Linked DNA regions of Homo sapiens. The protein of the gene in region 2 purifies or fractionates together with the protein of the main gene of each other region. This does not show direct contact. Each region holds a gene or a part of one and is shown on either strand. Other genes may lie near its edges. The genes, in order: ARPIN and DNAAF9.

Region 1 (3,811 bases), on a different chromosome or scaffold from region 2:
GTGGGCAGGTGGGAACACCCATCAGAGCCCCTAGCTAGCCTGCCCAGGAGAGCCCAGCAGTGTCTCCATGCTGATGTGGGGCTTGCTTGCCTCATCTGCCGTCAGGCAGGGCCTTCTCCTAGCCCCTCTTAAAACTTGCCTCCTCTGAGTTCCATTCCTGGTGATGGTGCAGTTGCCCTCCCAGCCACCGGGCTGGGAACCCTCACTGTCTCCTCCCCAGGTAAGCAATGCCAGGCCCTGCTGGCATTGGGCCCTTGCCCATTCCTCCCCCTCCCTTGCCTTCCCTTCCTCTTTCCATGGCTGCTTACCTGAGATGGGCCCTCAGCCTGTCCTGATAAAACCTTGCACCTGTCCCCCTGCCTTCTGGCTGTCCCCAGAACTCATCCCTGCCCTGCTGCCAATAGGACAAATGTCTTTCCAGAAATACATCTCTGAGGGTCTCACTGCTGCTCAGAAACCTTTCAGGATTCCTTGTCCATCAAATAAAATCCAAACTCCGAATGCCAACTCAAGACCTGTCCTGAACCAAGCCCACTTGCTTTCCCAGCCTGGGCTCCCAGAAGGCCTCCAGGTGCCCTGCGTGGCTCAAACATGCACAAGGGCCTCTTGGCTTTTATTTCCTATACTGTCCCAGGCTTTTAATATTATTCCTACAGCTTCTTATTCCCACAGTTGGCAGACCTCCCTACCCTCCAAGACTTCATCTTTCTTGATTCCACCAGGATGTGGCCTCCTATTCTTCAGGCCCTGGGAGCATTTCACCCACCTGCCTTGAACAACTGGCAAACAGCACTTATAGCACAGTTCACGCTTGGCACTGTGCTTGCCCCTCTGTTATCTCATTGAACCCTCATAATATTCTTAAACACAGACATCACGTTATCCCCATGTGATGGGGAAACTGAGTGGTTTGTCCCAGGCTGTTGGAAGGGGCAGAGTGGCTGCCCTCACCCAGGGCTCCTTTTCAGTGCCCTTTCCATTGCACCTTGGCAGCGCCCATTCCTGCTTCATGGTATTTGCGGTCCTCGGGCTTGGGTTATGGTTTTGTTTTGTTTTGTTTTTGTTTTTTGAGATGAAGTCTCATTCTGTCTCCCCGGCTGGAGTACAGTGGCAGGATCTCGGCTTACAGCAACCTCCGCCTCCTGGGCTCAAGCGATTCTCCTGCCTTAGCCTCCTGAATAGCTGGGATTACAGGCACATGCCACCACACCTGGCTAATTTTTTATATTTTTGATGGAGACAGGGTTTCACCATGCTGGCCAGGCTGGTCTCGAACTCCTGACCTCGTGATCCACTCGCCACTGCCTCCCAAAGTGCTGGGATTACAGACGTGAGCCACTGTGCCCAGCCCAAGTTATGGTTTTCTATATATACTTTTTGTCTTTGGCTGTGTGGAAGCCCTGGGCTTGCCCTGTTAGGAACTTCTAGCAGGGCTCATTATATGCGGCAGGTGCTCTTGTGAACCCATGAATGCATAAGTATTTGGGGGCAGAGGGAGCATCTGCCTAGCTTGAACATCTTTTGGAGCTGAGGTGGGCTTCTAGGGTAGATGTGAGGTTGGCGGGGCTGCAGCCGGAGCCCAGAGTGTGTGTGTTGTGGGATGAAGCCGCCCCCTCACTCTCTGTCTGCCTGGCCCCAGGAGCGCTACTACGTGCTGTATATCCGGCCCAGTCACATCCATCGCCGTAAATTCGACGCCAAGGGAAATGAAATCGAGCCCAACTTCAGCGCCACCAGGAAGGTGAACACGGGCTTCCTCATGTCGTCCTACAGTAGGTATCCTCTGCCCTCCCTCTCTCCCTCAGGGCCCTCCTGCAGTGTGGCGGCCTTTCTCTTCTGAGCCTCTTAGCCCCTGGAAAGTGTCTCTTCAGCCCTCTTGATGTTGAAGCCCTGTATGTGGCCTGAGGCTTCCACATCCACCCCTGGCCTTGCCTCCCATTTACTCAGAGGATCCCCGTTCCCTCCCCTCCATTCCAGGGGCCAGGCTGGCCTTCCCACCTCCTGCCATTTCCTGTATCTGGCAGAATCACCCACAAACCTGGCTTTGGGCTCTAACTGCCTTTGTGCAGAGCCCAGGCCAGGCCCTAGGCGGTCTCTGTTTTACTGCCCAAATCCTCTTTTGGTTCTGGGGTCTCAGTCCGTGCGTGCTATATAACAAAATACCTTAGGCTGGGTGATTTATTAACAATAGAAATGTGTTTGTTTATTTTATTTTTAATTTTTAAAATTTTTGTTTCTTTGTGCATTTTTAGTGGCTGGGTTTTGCTATGTAGCCCAGGCTGGAGTGTAGTGGTTATTCTCAGGTGCAATCATAGCACACTATAGTCTTCAAGTGATCCTCCCTCCTCAGCCTCCAGAATAGCTGGGACTGTAGGTGTGTGCCACTGCACCTACTTAAGAACAGAAATGTCTGGCTTACAGTTCTGGAGGCGGGGAAGTCCAAGGTCAGGGTGCCAGCAGATTCAGTGTCCGGTGAGGGCTTGCTTTGCGCTTCAGAGACGGTGCCTTCTTGCTGAGTCCTCACATGGCAGAAGGCAAGGCGGCTCTCTCTTCAATCTCTTCTGTAAAGCACTCATCCCACTCGTATGCCATGACTCACCTCCTAAAGGTCCCACCTCTTAATACTATCACATTGGTGATTAAGTTTCAACATATGATTTTTTTTCTTTTTTAAAAAAATTTTAGGGTGAGTGTGGTGGCTCATGCCTATAATCCCAGCACTTTGGGAGGCCGAGGTGGGTGGATCACTTGAGGTCAGGAGTTCGAGACCGGCCTGGCGAACATGGTGAAACCCCAGCTCTACTAAAAATACAAAAATTAGCTGGGCATGGTGGCGTGCACCTGTAATACCAGCTATCTGGGAGGCTGAGGCAGGAGAATCACTTGAACCCAGGAGGTGGAGGTGCAGTGAGCCGAGATTGCACCACTGCACTCCAGCCTAGGCAACAGAGTGAGACTCCGTTTCAAAAAAAAATAGTAATAATAATAATAATACTTTTTGATGGCCACTTTACTTCTAGGCATTATGTCCATACTCCATCAGTGGAGGAAAGGCAGCTGAGTTTGACTTTTTTTTTTTCCTTTTCTTTTGCTGTCTGAGACAAAGTCTGGCTCTGTCCCCCAGGCTGGAGTGCAGTGGCTCAATCTTGGATCACTGCAACCTCCGCCTCCCAGGCTCAAGCGATTCTCCTGCCTCAGCCTCCTGTTAACGTACGAATTTTGGGGGATACATTCCAACCATAGCAAGCCCTCCATGATCTTCTTCTTCTTCCTGATTTTGTCTCTGGTTGAGCCTCTTTGCTGTCTGCCCCTGGGTGAGAAGGTTTTGAGGTTGAGTGGGACTCTATCACTTTATTCATTCATACCTTCAGTTACTCATTGACTCTCTGAACATTAGGGACCATCTATATCATGTGCCAGCCCTTGTGCCACATGCTGAGAGGTCCAGGGATGAACAAGACCCAGTCGTATACTTGAAATGTTCTTAGTCCAGTAGAGGAGATGGACAGGCCCGGGCCTGGATCCCGTGAAGGGTGCTGAGCCCAGGCAGGCATGGCTGGGGATGCCCTAGAGCAGGGAATAACAGGACTGAATCCTGAAAGATAAGCAGAGGTCAGCCAGGTGCCAGGGATTTGCAGGGTGTTTCAGAGAGGCAGAGGGTGCCCAATGCCTGGCAGTTGAAGAGTTCCTGACCCAGGTATGAGAAGCCATGCAGGGCAGGCAGCAGGAGGGGCGGGCACTGAGGAGCTCAACTCTAACCAAGGGTGCAGGGCAGCCCTGTAGTGAGGTTTTAAGTAGGCAGGTGATGTGA
Region 2 (3,811 bases):
ATTTATTTTTTTGAGATAGAGTCTTGCTTTGTCACCCAGGTTGGAGTGCAGTGGCGTGATCTTGGCTCACTGCAACCTCCATCTCCTGGGTTCATGCAATTCTCCTGCCTCAGCCTCCCGAGTAGCTGGGATTACAGGCATGCGCCACCACGCCTGGCTAATTTTTGTATTTTTAGTACAGACAGGGTTTCACCATATTGATCAGGCTGGTCTTGAACTCCTGACCTCAAGTGATCCACCCACCTCAGCCTCCCAAAGTGCTGGGATTACAGGCGTGAGCCACCATGCCCGGCCACAAACACACTCTTTATTGGCTGTTTCCCCCTCTCCTCTTTCATCCTCCTGTTTCCTATTTAGTGTCTCCTAGAATCACTTCCAAAATAAACTACCTGTACTTAACTCCTTGTTCACGGTTGGCTTTCAGGGGAACATGCATTATAAGGACTACCTTATGCCCATGTTGTCCTCCCCAGGAGCACCCAGGTTGTCCGGGCCTATAGGAGCTGTTTATGAAAGGGGCCTCCTCAAATCCAAAGCAGGGGCTCCTGGAGTCCCAGAATACTTTCCTGCCCCACCTGCTCATTACTGGCATCCTGGGGACCTAGACTCTGTGTCCTTTTTAGCTTTTTGTCCCCAAACCCCTCAGGAAAAGGCCCCAGTGAGCATGGCGACTGAAGCAGAGGCTGGGGGTCAGAGCCTGGAGGCTGGGAGGCTCATCAAGGGGGTCTCTCAATCAGCCTCTTATCCTGGCCTCAGGTTCCACAGCCTTCCTATGAGCAGCCTCTGGATCCAGACAGTTTTTGCCTGGGCTCTAGCTGGTTCATCTGTAACATAGGTCTTCTGCAGTTGCTTGAACAAGGTGCCAAGGCAGGGCTTCTGGTCATCAGCTTCTCCCACAAGTACTGGCTCTACTCAATCTGATGCCCAGGTCACACCAGAGGTCTCCTGTGCCCTCCTCACTGAGGCTGCAAAGGCCAGAATTCTGTACGCAGCTTCCCTCTGTGGCCTGGGAGAAGCAAGACCTCCAGCATGTCCTACAAACAGCTCCTCACTCAGAGAATCCAAAATACAGAGCTAGGCAAGCCGAGGACAGCCCTGGGCCACCGAGGGGAGAAGCCAGGGCAAGGCACTCACGTGGATGCTCCTGATCTCCTGTTGCGTCAGCATCCCCCTGGTCTTCAGGGCTTTCCTCTGAGGCTTCTGCAGAGATGGGGAGTGGAGGGTCAGGTCCCAGCAGAACTCATGGAGTGCATGGGCAGGGGAGGGCTCTGGGCTCTATTACACAACTAAGATCTCAGCAGTGGGGAAAGCACGTGCGCTATGGCCTGGATATAATATTCTGTCTAGTCTGCTCTTTGAGAAAACCACTTTCCCATCACAGAGCCCTGTGAGCCAGCAGGGAACAAGCAGCAGAGGACAGCCCAGTGTTTTCGTAAATGGGAATGGTCGTGCCTCTTTGTAGATTCTTATCCCTCAACCCTACCAATGAGAGGCAGACAAAGGGGCAGTCTGAGGCCCCACAGTCAAGAACCGTTTAGAAGCTTATCCAAGTGAGGCAGCCCATCCCTCAGCATAAAGACAGGTCCCTAGTGAGCATCTGCAGAAGAGCCAGGCCCCAGCTAACTCTAGTCCCAGAGTTCTAGGATGAACTAAACCCCCAAGGCTGTGCTACAAGGCTTAGCACCCAAACCTTGCAGAGAACCTGGCTCACAAAGCAAACAACATAGCAGGCCTGCCTGGAGTTTGCTCTCAGTGGCTTCCTCCCTCTCTCAAAGTGTCCCTGCAAGTGCTGGCTGGGCCAGGGAGAGGAAGCCCAGTGGGGAGGCATCAGGGAGGCAGTGGCGGGGCTTCTCAGGGCCAACAGCAGCTCTGAGGTGTCTGGTCACATCTGTGTCAGGTCTGTCTGGGCTCTGGAAACCACCTGCTTAGCTGACTGCCGCAGCCAGTCCTTGATGCTGTCTTCCTTCAGGGAGCAGCCGATGAACACAAGGTAGCACTCCTGCTGCCCGCTGCTGTCTTGAGATACGCTTTTGGAGTCTGGTGGTGGTGTGGGTCCTTCCAAAACTGGCATGATGCTCAAGGAGTTGGCCAGTGTGTTGTAGCAGACCTCCATGGTCCTCTCAGAGTCTGTAAGGAGAATACACATTAGTCCCTGAGAGCCTGCCTTGAAAGGATACAGCTATGCTAAGACTGTGACAATGCAGATGGTTGGGATAGATTCATGAGAAAATGCAAGAGACAGAACTGATGTGACTGGTGGCAGCTTAGAAAGGATGGAGTAGGTGGGCACAGTGGCTCATGCTTGTGGTCCCAGCTACTCAGGAGGCTGAGGCAGGAGGAGCACTTGAGCCCAGGAATTCAAGGCTGCAGTGAGCTGAGATTGCGCCACTGTACTCCAGCCTGGGTGACAGAGGGAGATCCCATTTTGTTTTGTTTTTTAAAAAGGAAAAGAAAGGATGGAGTAAGAGAGAGAGACAGAGAGGAACAAAATAAGTTTCTGGCTTGGCTGATCTGGGTGATCAGGTGGACACTATTATCCCAGAAGGGAAACACAAGAGAAAAAAAAGGTTTATAGGTGGGAGAAGAGGAAGAGTTTGACTCTGCACTTGTGGCATTTGAAAGTCTCTAAGACCCTGAGCGTGAGACATCCACATAGTCCCTGGTGGTTGCTGGAATAGCTGTTATGGAAGAGGTGGTTGAGGAAAAGCAAAGAAACCCCCTTGGTAGAAGTGGGGGGCTCTCAGCAGAGGCCTCAGAGGCCAAGGGAGGAGGGCACAGCCAACAGTACAACAAAAAAATTAGCTGGGTGTGATGGTATGTTCCTGTAGTCCCAGTTACTTGGGAGGCTGGGGTGGGCAGTGACCTAGGATTGCACTACTGCACTCCAGCCTGGGCAACAGAGCAAGACCCTGTCTCAAAAACAAAACAAAACAGACAAAAAAACCAGTACAGCAGTGTTGCACGAAGGTCACACAGATGAGAATGGGAAAAAGTGTTACATGCTAAGGAGATGAGGGCTAGGAGTGACTGGAGACCCAAGAAGTGGGCAAGGGCTCCCTGAAAGGCAGGATGAGAAAGGATCCGGAAAAAAGCGAGGTTAAATTTGAACAAAAAAAGAGTCAATAGCAGATCTAAATAAACAAGAGGCTGGGTGTGGTGGCTAATACCTTAATTCCAGCACTTTGGGAGGCCGAGGCAGGAGGATCACTTGAGCCCGGGAATTCGAGACCAGCCTGGGCAACATAGGGAGACCTTGTCTCCACAAAAAAGAAAAAAAATCAGCCAGGCATGGTGGTTCACGCCTATAGTCCCAGCTACTTGGGAGGCTGAGGTAGGATGATCGCTTGAGCCTGGGAGGTCAAGGATGCAGTGAGCCGAGATCAAACCACTATACTCTGGATTAGGTGACAAAGTGAGACATTGTCTCAAAAAATAAAAAGAAGAAAGAAATAAAAATATTTATTTATTTATTTTATTGAGACGGAGTTTCACTCTGTCGCCCAGGCTGGAGTGCAGTGGCACAATCTCGGCTCACTGCAACGGCCGCCTCCTGGGTTCAAGTGATTCTCCTACCTCAGCCTCCCAAGTAGCTGGGATTAAAGGCATGTGCCACCATGCCCGGCTAATTTTTTTTTTTGAGACAGAGTTTTGCTCTTGTTGCCCAAGCTGGAGTGCAGTGGTACAATCTTGGCTCACTACAACCTCCATCTCCCAGGTTCAAGTGATTCTCCTGTCTCACCCTCCCAAGTAGCTGGGATTACAGCTAGGTGGTGTCCTACAGTAGGTGGGTGTCCGCCACCACACCCAGCTA

The links.
Region 1: the proteins of DNAAF9 (region 2) and ARPIN fractionate together in Homo sapiens (co-fractionation; one large-scale study listed by BioGRID). This does not show direct contact.

Annotation. Positions count from the first base shown.
Region 1 is NC_000015.10:89,906,241-89,910,051, reverse strand, and holds part of ARPIN (arpin), read left to right. Parts: intron 1-1,639; coding exon 1,640-1,772; intron 1,773-3,811. Other genes in the region: ARPIN-AP3S2 (uncharacterized protein LOC100526783), read left to right, coding at 1,640-1,772. UniProt on the Homo sapiens protein: Regulates actin polymerization by inhibiting the actin-nucleating activity of the Arp2/3 complex; the function is competitive with nucleation promoting factors.
Region 2 is NC_000020.11:3,254,085-3,257,895, forward strand, and holds part of DNAAF9 (dynein axonemal assembly factor 9), read right to left. Parts: intron 2,128-3,811; coding exon 1,922-2,127; intron 1,201-1,921; coding exon 1,135-1,200; intron 1-1,134. UniProt on the Homo sapiens protein: May act as an effector for ARL3.